2 separate regions of the Homo sapiens genome follow, and region 2 is reported to be linked to region 1. The links are microRNA targets in miRTarBase. Many come from high-throughput screens and were not tested one by one. Region 1 holds a microRNA gene; the other region holds the end of a gene's coding sequence.

Region 1 (7,120 bases):
GTGTGAATCTTATTCTCTGGAGTTGTGCAGAGTGACAGAGCCACAGGCTGACAGACACAGAGCCACACACAGGAGGGATCCATGAGCCAGGTACAGACAGACCAAAGGGCTGACAGAGACAGACAAGGACAGGCTGACTGATGGGGGTAGGAGGGAGGGCAATCAGAGGCAAACAGTTGCAGGTCCCCTGGAGCTGCTCAGCCCCTCAGCAGCCCAGCAGAAGCTGGAGGGATTCTTAGAAACAGCTTCCACTCTGGGGACATCCCAGACCCTGGGTCAGCCCTGGCGAGTGGCATGAAGACGGGGTGAGGCAAGCAGGCTGAGCATGGGGAGGTCAGCAGTGCGTAAGCCCAGATGGGTGTCTCCCCAGGCTTCCTCAGAACCCCGTCATGAACTCCCCGGTGGTCAGCGTGGCTGTGTTCCACGGACGCAACTTCCTAAGGGGAATCCTGGAGTCCCCCATCAGCCTAGAGTTTCGCCTGCTACAGACAGCGAATCGGAGCAAGGCGATCTGTGTGCAGTGGGACCCACCTGGCCTGTGAGGACCCCCATTCTGGAAACCCTTGGTCCCGTTAGCCCTTGGGAGGCCAACTAATAGTCCCAGCCTTCCCCTGGGGCCCCCACTAGTGCTGTTGTGCAACCCGGACCATGAGGAATGCTGTACCCCAACTCCAGGCACCCTCAGCCCTTCCCATGATCTCTCACAAACCCCTGCCTGACACTGGGTCACAGTTGTGTCTAACTGCCCTGTGGCTGCAGGGCGGAGCAGCATGGTGTGTGGACAGCACGGGACTGCGAGCTGGTGCACAGGAATGGGTCCCACGCACGGTGTCGCTGCAGCCGGACAGGGACCTTTGGGGTCCTCATGGATGCCTCTCCCCGTGAGGTGGGGCTGTGTTCAGTGTCCCAAGGAAGTGGGGGGTCAAAGGGACACGGGGATTCTGCCCAACAACCCATCAACCATCCCTGTCTCTGTAGAGGCTGGAGGGCGACCTGGAGCTGCTGGCTGTGTTCACCCACGTGGTCGTGGCTGTGTCTGTGGCTGCGCTGGTGCTGACTGCAGCCATCCTGCTGAGCCTGCGCAGCCTCAAGTCCAATGTGCGTGGGATCCATGCCAATGTGGCAGCCGCCCTGGGGGTGGCAGAGCTCCTCTTCCTGCTGGGGATTCACAGGACCCACAATCAGGTGCAGGATCAGGGCCAGGGAACTTGTGTCCTGATGACCCTACTGGCCCAGGAGGCCTGGGGCCAAAACTCAGGGTCAGAGGTCAGGGATGCTCAGGTTGGGGCCAGGGTTTTCAGCAGGATGCTGGGGTAAGATATTGTGGTTTAGGGGTGAGAGGTGGGAAGCAGATGCCTGGGGTAGGGGTCAGAGGTGGGTGAGGCAGGAGAGGTCCTGACACGCCCCCCTGCCCTCAGCTGGTGTGCACTGCAGTCGCCATCCTCCTGCACTACTTCTTCCTCAGCACCTTCGCGTGGCTCTTCGTGCAGGGGCTGCACCTCTACCGCATGCAGGTTGAGCCACGCAACGTGGACCGCGGCGCCATGCGCTTCTACCATGCCCTGGGCTGGGGCGTCCCTGCTGTGCTGCTGGGTGAGGGCTGTGACCCCCAACCTCCAACCATCACATGGCCTGACCCCTGACCCTGTCCCCACTCCTGCTCATGACCCCCAACCTCAAACCCCAAGCCATCTATTCATGGGGTTGCTGCTCTGCCCTCACCCATGCTTTCTCCCATACATGGGCTGGTCAGCAGCTCTGGAACACACACCCTCAGTCCTACCCTTTCTCTTCCCAAGGCCTTGCTGTGGGCCTGGACCCTGAGGGCTATGGGAACCCTGACTTCTGCTGGATCTCAGTCCACGAGCCCCTCATCTGGAGCTTTGCTGGCCCTGTTGTCCTGGTCATAGTGGTGAGTGCCCTGGACTTGGTGCCCCCTCTGTACTTCCCTCCCTCATTGGGGGAGGAGGTGCAGTGGACTCAGCTGAGGGCGGTCAGGTGGCATTCTGCAGGCTTCCTGGGCTCGGCCTTCATTTTTTCTGTCCTCTGGTCAGTAGCCACCCCCATTCAACTGGCATGGAGATGGGGGCGCGGGGTCAGAGATTCAGTTGCCTGTCCCTGCCTCTGTCTCTGCTTCTCTCTCTCAGTCCCTCTCTGGTTCCCAATTTCTTTTTCTGTGATGCTAAGCTCCTTTGGTGTGTGTGTATATGTGTGAATTTCTCACTGGTTCTGCCTCTCTCCGTGAATCTTAGTCTCTCTCTGTCTCTCATTGCCTCTCTCTCTCTCTCTCTCTCTGCCCTGCCCGGCCCCACATGTCTGGCCGTGGGTCCAGATGAACGGGACCATGTTTCTCCTCGCTGCCCGCACATCCTGCTCCACAGGGCAGAGGGAGGCCAAGAAGACCTCTGCACTGTGAGTTGGCTGGCTGGAGGAAGGGGGCTTCTCAGGATGGCAGGTCCCTCCTGGGTGGGGTCTGGGGCCCCCAGATCTTCCCTGGTGCAGGTTGGGCTCCAAGTTCTAGATGAAGGAATGAAGTCACACCTGCCCTGACCTGTGGTCCCTCTCTGGCGCCCTCGCTATACTGTAGCCCCACATGTGCTTCTGCCCTGCTGTCTCTCCTTGTCCTCTGGGTCCCCCCAGAGTCTCCCATGGCCTGGGTGGCTCACTTTGCCCCCTGCCCTGTGTGTTCCCACCTGTCTTCCGTGCCCTCCCTTGTGGCTCCCATACCCCTGTGTTTTCCCCACGTGTCCTCATGGCTCTTTGACTGCTCTCCTGTTTCTTTGTGGGACCTCCCATCTCCCCCAGTGTCCTCCAGAGACCTCCATGTTCCCGTGTGAGTTCCTTTTTTTCACGTTTCGTGTGTGGCCCCTGTGTGTCCTCCCGTGTTCCCTGCATGAGTCCTACATGAGCCTTGCATGTCCTCCTGTGTCTTCCCATGTCCCCACAGCAGGACCCTTCGCAGCTCCTTCCTGCTGCTTCTGCTGGTCAGTGCCTCCTGGCTCTTTGGGCTCCTGGCAGTCAACCACAGCATCCTAGCCTTCCACTACCTCCATGCTGGACTCTGCGGCCTCCAGGTGACTCTGGTGCCCCTCCCTTGCCCCAGAACCAGGTGGGCCTTCAGTAGGCTGGGGCCATCCCTAGGCAGACGTTGACCCTAGGCCTGGAGCTGACTCTTACTGGATAACTTTGCCAGGCTGGGTACTACCCCAGACCAGACACTGGCCCTAGCTGCTGCCCCCAGGCCTGGAGCTGACTCTAACTTAGGCACTGATCCCAGACTGAGTGCTGATCTTGGATCGACCTTCACCAACACCAAGGCTCCCGACCCCTTGCTGATCCACACCGACCTTACAGACTCCAGCCACTCCTGCTGCTCCATCCTCTCCCCTGCTGACCTTCCCCAACTCCCTTACTGAGTCCCGCATGGGCTCCTCACTGACCCACACTAGCCTACAGTGACTGACCCCATTGCTGACCCACAGTGACTTATACTGGTCCCTGATTGATCCCTGCCGACTCTGCTTTGACCCTCGCTGACCCACAGGGCCTGGCGGTGCTGCTGCTCTTCTGTGTCCTAAATGCAGATGCTCGGGCTGCCTGGATGCCAGCCTGTCTGGGCAGGAAGGCAGCGCCTGAGGAGGCAAGGCCAGCACCTGGGCTGGTGAGTCGGGATGGGGGCCCTGAGAAGCCAGAGTTTTAGGCTGCTTCAGGGTTAGCTCACACTCTGTCCCTACCACCCCCAGGGACCTGGGGCCTACAACAACACGGCTCTCTTTGAGGAGAGTGGCCTCATCCGCATCACTCTGGGCGCCTCCACCGTCTCCTCTGTGAGCAGTGCCCGCTCCGGCCGGACCCAGGACCAGGACAGCCAGCGGGGCCGCAGCTACCTCAGGTGAGAGGAAGAGCCTCCTTGTGAGGGAACACTCAGCTTAGTCCAGCCCCACCTTACCAGGGCTTGGCTGACCAGGTCCTAGGGCGGGTGGCTCCACCCATCTTGGCCATCTGGGGCCCTGCTTCTGCCTCTGCCCTAAATGCTTCCCACCACACACACCCAGGGATGCCATTCCACCCGCAGCTGGCTGTGCACTCAAAGACACTCCAGCCTCCAAGGCACCCCATCACATCCCTCTTTCATGGTGGGGGGGCTCCTGCTTTTCCAGGGACAATGTCCTGGTTCGACATGGCTCAGCCGCTGACCACACTGACCACAGCCTCCAGGCTCATGCTGGCCCCACTGACCTGGACGTGGCCATGTTCCATCGAGATGCTGGTGGAGTTGGGGCCTGGGGCAGGGAGGAGGGAGGCAGAGGATCTCTCCCCATCCCCTTTTCTTCTACCCCATACTGGGAGCAGTGGCTGACTGGGGTGGGACGATCTCCCCCAGGGTCCCTGCCTCAGGAGGCACCTACCTCTCCAGCCCTGGTTCTCCCAGTCCACTCCTGATTCGTCCTTCCCTCTGATAAGTCCCAGCCCTTCTGCTGCTACCTCCACTTCAAGCCCCGGTTCCTGTCCCCAACCCTAACCCCCTTGCCGTACCCACCTCTAGACCCTCAACTCCAAATTCCCTTATCTCCAAGTCCCTTACCTCTGAAAGTACTTCTGACTTTCCCAACTCCAGGCGCAGACTCCGACTCTGACAGTGACCTGTCCTTGGAGGAGGAGAGGAGTCTCTCCATTCCATCTTCAGAAAGCGAGGACAATGGCCGGACGCGGGGGCGCTTCCAACGGCCACTCTGCCGAGCAGCCCAGAGTGAGAGGCTCCTCACCCACCCCAAAGGTGCCAGGCGCCCTCTGACCCCTTGGGTGACCAAGGGATGCCCCATTTGTTATCCCTCCAGCTCCCCATCTTTCCTGCGGTTGGGGTTCATCCTGGTCTTTCTGACCCCTCAGTCATCAGGTTCCCCAACTTTTAGTCTCTGTCCACCTCCAGTTAAGGGGAGGGAGCTCACCAGTCACCCCCACCCATTGATCTCTGAGGAGATACCCTCCTGTTCCCACCTCTGCTCAATGAGAACAGCCAGGGTTTCAAGGGTCATTAGGGTCAGGGGTCATGAGTCACTGGGATCAACCCAGAAGCTCCTGTAACCTGACCTGGCTCCACAGATGTGGATGGCAATGACCTCCTGTCCTACTGGCCAGCCCTGGGGGAGTGCGAGGCAGCCCCCTGTGCTCTGCAGACTTGGGGCTCTGAAAGGCGCCTGGGGCTGGACACCAGCAAGGATGCAGCTAACAACAACCAGCCAGACCCGGCCCTGACCAGTGGGGATGAGACTTCTCTGGGCCGGGCCCAGCGCCAGAGGAAAGGTACAGTCCCTGAGCCCTGGCCCACACCGCAGACACGCTGGGGGCTGCTCATGCCCTGAGCCAAGGGATTGCAGCTTCCTCATCCCAAACTGAGAGCTCTTCTTACTCTGACCTAGGGCGCTTCTGCTTCTCTAGCCTGCTTCACGGTCCTCAGGGACTGCTCCTGTCCTGACCTGGGAATTCTCTGTCCCCCTCTACCCTGGCCAGCACCACAGGGGGACCACAGGCGACCACTCCTGCCCCAGCCCATCTGTTTTTCAGAGACCCTAGGAGCTGCTTCCCCCTGCCCCCCACCCAGATCCCAGAGCCCGTGCTCTGATCTGGAAGATTTCTGCCCCCTACTCTGCTTTTATGGGGACCCGGAGAAGAGGTTTCTGCCCTCACCCTTGCATCACAGGGACCTGGGGACTGCTCCTGTCCAACCCGGGGGGTTCCTGCATTTCAGCCAGGCCTGCATTGTCAGGACCTGAGGGCTGCCCCTCTTCTGACCTCAGGGAGTTTGCCCCATCCCCTGCACCATGAGACCTGCCCGCCCTCCCCCTGCCCCGGGACCACAACTGGAAGATGACTGCCCTTCCACTCTGACCCCTGTCCTGCTGCCTCTCTGGGACCACCAGGGTTGCCTCTGCTGCTCCCCAAGGGGTTCCTGCTCCCATCCCTGTGTTGGAAGGATCCCAAGGGCTGCCACACCCCTAGACTCAGCAATTCCTGCCTGCCCTCCCCCTCCCACACAAACCCTGCCCCCCATTTTCTTCCTCTCACAGGCATCCTGAAGAACCGGTTGCAATACCCACTGGTGCCACAGACCCGAGGTGCCCCTGAGCTGTCCTGGTGCCGTGCAGCCACCTTGGGCCACCGTGCTGTGCCAGCTGCCTCTTACGGTCGCATCTATGCTGGCGGGGGCACGGGCAGCCTTTCACAGCCAGCCAGCCGCTACTCTTCTAGAGAACAGCTGGACCTGCTCCTCCGGCGGCAACTGAGCCGTGAGCGACTAGAGGAAGCCCCTGCCCCTGTTCTACGTCCCCTGAGCCGGCCAGGGTCCCAGGAATGCATGGATGCTGCACCAGGCCGACTGGAGCCCAAAGATCGGGGCAGCACCCTGCCACGGAGGCAGCCACCTCGGGACTACCCTGGCGCCATGGCTGGCCGCTTCGGGTCACGGGATGCGCTCGACTTAGGGGCACCTCGAGAGTGGTTGAGCACGCTGCCTCCGCCCCGCCGCACCCGGGACCTTGACCCACAGCCCCCACCTCTGCCCCTGTCTCCCCAGCGGCAACTCTCAAGGGACCCCCTCTTGCCATCCCGGCCGCTGGACTCTCTGTCTAGGAGCTCGAACTCTCGGGAGCAGCTGGACCAGGTGCCTAGCCGGCACCCCTCACGAGAAGCCCTTGGGCCACTCCCGCAGCTGCTCAGAGCTAGGGAGGACTCGGTCAGTGGCCCCAGCCATGGCCCCTCCACAGAACAGTTGGACATTCTTTCCTCCATCCTTGCCTCTTTCAACTCCTCGGCCCTCTCCTCTGTGCAATCTTCAAGCACACCCTTGGGCCCTCACACCACTGCCACACCTTCTGCCACAGCCTCTGTGCTTGGGCCCTCCACGCCACGTTCTGCCACGTCTCACAGCATCTCGGAGCTGTCGCCAGACTCAGAGTAAGTATGGTCCAGCCACCTGCTTGCACCCTCATCAGCTTAGGGCAACCTCCTGTGTGCCCTGCCCTGTGTTCTGCCACAGAAGGGGATGAGGGCTGGCAGACAGGTGTGGGCTACCCCAGGCTCAGCACAGCCAGAGGGCCACAGGCTGGGGACAGGAATCTGG
Region 2 (7,120 bases), not on the chromosome of region 1:
CAAAGCTTCATCTGTATTTATAGCCGCTCCCCATCACTCGCATTATCACCTGAGCTCCACCTCCAGTCAGATCAGCAGTGGCATTAGATTCTCACAGGAATGTGAACCCTATTGTGGACTGCATATTTAAGGGATCTAGGTTGTGCACTCCTTATGAGAATTTAATGCCCTATGATCTGTCACTGTCTCCCATCACCCCAAGATGGGACCACCTAGCTGCAAAACAACAAGCTTAGGGCTCCCACTGATTCTACATTATGGTGACTTTTATAATTATTTCATTAGATATTTCAATGTAATAATAATAGAAATAAAGTGCACAATAAATGTAATGTGCTTGAATCATCCTGAAACCATTCCCCCCTCAACCCCAGTCCATGGAAAAATTGTCTTCCACAAAACTGGTCTCTGGTGCCAAAAAGGTTGGGGACCACTACTTTAAGCCATAGAATGTGTTCAGTAGAGTGGTCTCCCTGCAGCCAGCTTGGAAGCTACAAAAGCCACAGACAATCCAATGTGTGTGAGGCTGCAACCTGGGCCTCCCAGGGCCTCCAGAAAGCCTCCCTGACCTTCCTAGTCCGCCTCCACCAGCTGCTACTGGCAGCACAGGAACTCCTCGGGAGGCAGCTCTGTCCTTGCCCAGGCTCACACTGTGGGCCGCACGTGGTGAGCTCCAGGAGCTGCTCAAGTCTGCTGCTTGTGGGACCACCAGGCAAGCTATCAGACCCCATTGTGCCCAGCCCTGAGGTGGCTGCATGCAGGAGCTGCTGGTTAGATTTCCAAAGTCATTATTAAAAGTTAAATTATATACATTAATTAAATCAATCATATTTAAAATCAATATTCAAAACGTACTAAATGTCAGCCAGGTGTAGTGGCTCATGCCTGTAATCCTAGCACTTTGTAAGGCTGAGGTGGGAGTATTGCTTGAGGCCAGGAGTTCAAGACCACCCTGGCCAACATAGCAAGACCCACCCTATCTCTATAAGATACAAACAAACAAAACAGCTTACTACATGACAATTAGATAATTGTCATGACTGCTTGTTACTATTACCTGTGCTTCTGAGGTAACTTCCATCTATTGTTTCTGCGTGACAGAAATACAATATAATGGTGGCTACTGTACACATCGTTCTACCTCTGGGTTTAGTGACATCACATTGGTAGCTTGAAAATTGGCCATAGAGCTGGGTGTGGTAGCTCACGCCTGTAATCCCAGCACTTGGGAAGGCCAAGGTGGGTGGATCACCTGAGTTCGGGAGATCCAGACCAGTCTGGCCAACATGGTGAAATCCCATCTCTACTAAAAATACAAAAATTAGGCCGGGCGCGGTGGCTCACATCTGTAATCCCAGCACTTTGGGAGGCCGAGGCGGGTGGATCATGAGGTCAGGAGATCAAGGCCATCCTGGCTAACACGGTGAAACCCCGTCTCTACTAAAAATACAAAAAATTAGCCGGGAATGGGGCGGGCGCCTGTAGTCCCAGCTACTCAGGAGGTTGAGGCAGGGGAATGGCATGAACCTGGGAAGTGGAGCTTGCAGTGAACCAAGACTGCGCCACTGCACTCCAGCCTGGGCGGCAGTGCGAGACTCTGTCTCAAAAAAAAAAAAAAAAAAAAATACAAAAATTAGCTGGGCGTGGTGGTCGTGGTGGGATTACACGCCTGTAATCCCAGCTACTTGGGAGGCTGAGGCAGGAGAATCACTTGAACCCAGGAGGCGGAGGTTGCAGTGAGCCGAGATTGTGCCATTGCACTCCACCCTGGGTGACAAGAGGGAAACTCTGTTTCAAAAAAAAAAAAGAAAAAAGAAAAAGAAAATTTGCCATAGTAACAGTATTTCACCATGAAAATCAGCAAACACTACACATCAGGGGCTTGGTTTACTGCTCCCCCTCTCCCCACCTCACCCCCAGTCTGTGGTCATTTATCAGCACATTACTGACTGCACCCAATGGGGACAAACTCCTAGGAGCTCTGGCTGTCCCAAGGGCTGAGGGGATTCACATGTGATGCACCTGGAACCTGCTCTGCTGGATAGAATGTTGGGTCTTCTGAGTTTCCAGGTGGACTTTGTCTCCATGCTTGGGCCAGTGGCCTTCCAGACCTATGCTCTGAGGTCACCTGCAATAAAATTCCACCTTATATGAGCAGCAAGGCTACAGAGGAAGGCTGAGCTGCCCTTCACACACGTGGGCTTGCCTGGAGCCATTCCATCTGTGACAGCACAAACTGTCCACCTTCCAGCCTCTTAACCTGAGCAGCCATCAGTCTTTTCCTTTAGCTCATAAAACTGAAATTTTACTACAGTCTTTGGTTACTTTTGTAGAGATTGTTCTAGCATGGGGTAACCTGTATATAATGTTGTAAGGTTCTAAGAGGCTAAGAGTTGCCTTTACCTATCCAGGCAAAGAGAAGGGGCTGGGTGCAATGAGAAACACTTATGATTTCTGATAAACAGAAAGATTCCATGCCTATATTTAAAAAGTGAAAAAAACAAGAGGCATTACTGAGGTCTCTCATCACATTGAACTCCCGGTACACACAGCTCATTTTCTCCCTCCTTCATCCAATGTGTGGAGTACTGGCTCTGTGCTGGGCACCACTCCAGGCACTGGGGGCAGTACCGAGCCAGACACACACAGACCCCCTAAACTACCCCCTACACCTCCCAGCCCCCTCCCCAAGGCTTAGCCAGAGCGGTGAAGGCTGAAGGCTGTGGTACCAGACTGCCTGGCTTTGAATTCAGGGTCCTCCATTTGTGATTTTCTTGACCTTGTTGTACCTATCACTACAAATGTGTGAGGTGGGTCTCATCAACCCTGTTTTACAGATGAGGAAGCTGAAGCATGACATTCACTAAGACTGTGAACTTGTTTCTCATAAATAACTGTAATACATTTCTCAGAGTCAAGTATGTACTAACAAACTCACAAGTATGTGAGTTAGGTATGTACTAATGAAGAGTCTCATGACCCCATGGCCATTCCCAGTTCTGAGGTACATTATGTTTTTACTGCAACTTCCTGCTGTTAGATACCTGGAGGATATGCTTAACCACACTGTGTAATGCAACCCCACATTGTGGGGTCAACCTGGATGCTTCTCCCCAGGGCTGTAGTGAATACACCAAGCCACTTGCAGGAGACAGTTCCAGGAAAAGGTCCCAAGGCAATGTGGCTTTTAGGTGATGAAAACTTTATGTAAAATATGTTAACTGCCTTTAGAAAATTTAAAATTATGTTTCTGGTTCTTAACCATCCTGCTGTAAATAGAGCTCAACCTCCCTAGAACAAGACTGAGTAAATATGGACAATAATTAATCAGAATTACTGCAACCCCCTAGGGATCCCAAAGGCCCACCTGGCTACCCCAGGCCACCTCCCAAGGGGACAATCCAGACTCTCTCACGAACACACAACTGAAGGCAGAGCTCTTCAGCTTGTCAGAACTCATTCAGAACTCATTCTCACTTTTGTGGCATGAAAAAACAAGCCTTCCTCCTTACTTGATATTCTGAAACTTCACAGTAAATTTTGACTTTAATCCACCAAAACATGGCTCTTCCGCAACCCAGCCCCAAGCCTGGCACTGTGGAGATTCACTTCTAGAGGACTAGCTAAGGGTTTACTACAGGGCTAGCTCAGAAGGGCCAGAGAGAAAGGCAGATCAAAACCGACAGCTGCCCCACACACAGGGGCCATCAAGCCCACCCCTGGGAAATGGCCCTGCCCCAACACCCAAGCAGGGAATGGAGTGGGGCAGGGAGTCAGCTGTCCCCACCCTCCGCTAAAGAGACAAGCATAGGTCCACTCCTCACCTTGTCCAGTCAGTCCTGCCCCATGAAGGACACCACAAGGACGCAACAGACAACCCACATGTGGGACATGCCATGGGACAACTGATGTTGTCAGTGGCAGTGCAGTAATAGGGCGGAGGCACTCTGGATGAACAGGCGGTGGAGACAGGACAGTAAGTCACTTATGTGGACCCTGCTTGGCCGCTGATCCAACAAACCAACTGTAAAAGGAATTTCTGAAACAATTCAAAAGGTGTGACTACAGGTTGACTGCTAGATAATTCCAAACATGTTCATCTTGTTAGAGGACTGATAATGAACACTGAGATTATATAAGAAAATATCCTTATTTTTTAGAAATACCTATTTGAGTAAGAAGTGGTAAAATTATATGATATCTAGAATTTACCTTCAGATAGTTTAGCAAAAAAAAAAAAGGATAAATGAAGCAAATGACATAGAATTTCAACAATTGTTGAATATGGGTGATGGGGTTTGTGGCATCATTGTCTTTGTGTGTGATTAAAATTTCTCAAAGGCCGGGTGTGGTGGCTCATGCCTATAATCCCAGCAATTTGGGAGGCCAAGATCACTTGAGCTCAGGAGTTCGAGACCAGCCTGGAAAACACGGTGAAACCCCATCTCTACCAAAAACACAAAAAATTAGCGAGGTGTGGTCGCGTGTTCCTGTGGTCCCAGCTATTCAGGAGGCTGAGGCAGGAGAATCACTTGAACCTGGGAGGCGGAAGTTGCAGTGAGCTGAGATTGCGCCAGTGCCACTTCACTGCAGCCTGGGCGACAAAGTGAGACCCTGTCTCAAAATTTAAAAAAGAAAAAAGAAATGAAAAGGGTTTTTAAAATTTCTCAAAATTAAAAAAAAAAAGTGAAACAGAGTCAGTAAAAGCAATCACAGCTTTCCTCAGCTCCCTGAAGTTACAGAGACAATTATTTGAGCCCCCACTTTGCAACAACAAATGCCTGACATTCACATACAACAATCACAAGCTGGTTTACAGATGTGGAAATGTTGTCTCCTCAATTTTACTTCGTGGTGTTACAATCCATTCTGTCAACAAAAACCTTCCAAAGAGGCAGAAAACTCTTGGGAGGCAGGGTAGGAGGTAAAGAAAAGGAAAGAAATAGATAAGACAGTGCTGCTACAGTTCCTCTCACAAATGAAATGGAGCCTCAACTGTTTCCCCAGATGACTGAACAGCTTCCAGATTGGCTTAATGTGGGAGCTCAACACATTCTCTCTCACAAAGGAATTCGAGCTGGCTGCAAGTACAGCTTCTAGAACAGATGTTCTTAACTTGTGGTCGACAGATCCCTGATGCAAAATTTTAAATGTGCATGACAGTTTTCTAGAGAGTATTCAGCTTTCTTTGTATTCTCAAAGTGATCCATGTCCCAAAAAGTTAAGAACCACTGATCTTAATTAAAGAGGGTTTGAAAGCAAACTGACTAGATTGACGCTCTGGCCATGGGTTGTGCAAAGAAAGCTTTTTATTTGAGAACACCTAGATACTTTTGGAAATGTTCTTGTTGGATCACAAACAACCTAATTGACAGTCTATCGCCAACATCCACAAACACAGCAAACAGTCCAGTCCTGCAGACCACACAGGGTACATCTAGAGGGTTCTACTTGCATCACCCACACTTCCACTCCTGTGAAACAACTGTCTTGGGCATGAGAAGGGCCAGGATAGGCCAGGTGAATGGCAGGCTGCCCAACAACCCCAATCCCAAACCAACCTCCCAGGCCATGGGCCCAAGTCCCTGCAGGAAGATGCTAATAGGTACAACAGGTAGAACATGTAGACACAAACATCTAGTTTATTTTTTCTGACTGTAACCAAAGTCAGCAAAAGAAACAACAAAACTTCAGTGCCCTAGAAATCCTCCTGGATTCAATGACAACACATCAATGGCCGGGCACAGGGTTGGATTCCTTTTATGAAATCACCTTATAATCTCTCATCATCCCAGGACAGTGCCTTTTGGGACTGCATGAATCTTTAATAGCTACACCACATTTTCTCATCCTTTAAGTTATGACAGACAGGTTATCTCTCTCCAAGAGCATCAGGTTAGATGCTCTTTCACTCTTACAAACTGTCAGGTGGAGGGAGAATCACGACATCATTCATAAATAACTGTGGAGTCTGGGATGCTGGCTGAAGGCATCTCCAGGAAGGACTGGAGGGCGATTTTGCTAAAGGGCTGCTCACTGCTCATTTCACTGCATGCCGCTTTTCTCACTTTGGTTGGGAGTTTGAAGGACCATGTAATCACAGAGATTAGAGCTCCCTGTGAAATCAATCACTGCCTTTAGATCTCCACAAAGACCTGTTCTCCAATAGCACATGCGTTTCTCTGTGAGCTGTATTCGCATCAGCGCCGGAGCCTCAGAAAGAATGCGTGTTTACACTCTGTACTCTCCAATGGGTAATATTTATCATAGAAATCTAATACATATTCTTCAGTCTTGAATCCAAACTTCTGGTACAGTAGCATAGCGGGGTTGCTTGCTGAGACGTGAAGGGTTACGTCCTTGCCCATGCAGGTCTGCCAAAAGAGTGGAAAAATACAAGATAAAAATGGAAAGGCCTGAGGGAAAATGAGTAGGTAAAGAAACGCTTTTAAGTGTAGGCAGTTAGTTATGGAAACCGGAGAAATCAGAGACTGAGGCTGAGACATTGCAACACCTAGCAACAGCTGGAAACAGAATGACATTTTGCTGCTGATCAAAACATTCACAAGACCAAGGAAACTGATAGTATTCTGGGTGTTTTTTATTTTTCTTTGAAGCAAAGGGTCAATGGGGATATTGTTATTGTCAGCTTTATTATTTACAACTCAATTACCTTTAAATATGTCAAACATTTCAATACCTAACACTATGATAACCTTGAATAAATACAAAACAAAATAAGTTTTGCTTTTTAAAACTAGATGTTATCTTGTACCTCCCCAAAACCTGTAAAAATTCCTTTACTAGGCCTGCTAAATTACATGCACAAACATGAAATATTAAGAATGTAATTATAAAACCTGAGGCCCTTGTATAGACCTTCTGAATCCCAAAGTCCACCTTCTGTCTCTCTAAAACTGACAGAATTAGCTTCTTAGAACTGAGATTTCTACATTCAGCTTTGACCTAATCTTAGGGGAAAAGAGTAACAATCATTCTATCAACACAAGGCAAGTCCTTAGATTCTTTAATCAGCTACACAGAGTAAGGTGTCCCAAAAGTCATATCATTTAAGAACTTACTTTTTAATAAAGAAGGCACTGAAATACTGAAGTTGATA

The links. The annotated mature microRNA hsa-miR-4793-5p reads ACAUCCUGCUCCACAGGGCAGAGG and lies in region 1 at 2,366-2,389, shown strand. An mRNA with a match to its seed (bases 2 to 7 or 8) in the 3' UTR can be bound and repressed. Matches are read on the target gene's strand: a 7mer-m8 pairs with bases 2 to 8, a 7mer-A1 pairs with bases 2 to 7 and ends in A, and an 8mer does both.
Region 2: miRTarBase lists KAT14 as a target of hsa-miR-4793-5p. Seed matches in the 3' UTR shown: 7mer-A1 at 5,847-5,853.

What each region holds. Positions count from the first base shown.
Region 1 is chr3:48,639,508-48,646,627 of GRCh38, reverse strand. MIR4793 (microRNA 4793) reads left to right here and starts at 2,348; the gene lies at 2,348-2,434. It overlaps CELSR3 (cadherin EGF LAG seven-pass G-type receptor 3), which reads left to right. Exons shown (of 35, transcript NM_001407.3): 22 at 371-538; 23 at 760-886; 24 at 979-1,185; 25 at 1,419-1,593; 26 at 1,800-1,912; 27 at 2,333-2,412; 28 at 2,951-3,074; 29 at 3,545-3,661; 30 at 3,744-3,892; 31 at 4,161-4,270; 32 at 4,619-4,777; 33 at 5,104-5,304; 34 at 6,069-6,954.
Region 2 is chr20:18,186,540-18,193,659 of GRCh38, reverse strand. It overlaps KAT14 (lysine acetyltransferase 14), which reads right to left. Exons shown (of 11, transcript NM_001392073.1): 11 at 5,625-6,374. The coding sequence ends at 6,201. Among named protein-coding and RNA genes, the nearest start is that of PET117, 52 kb to the right of the region's middle.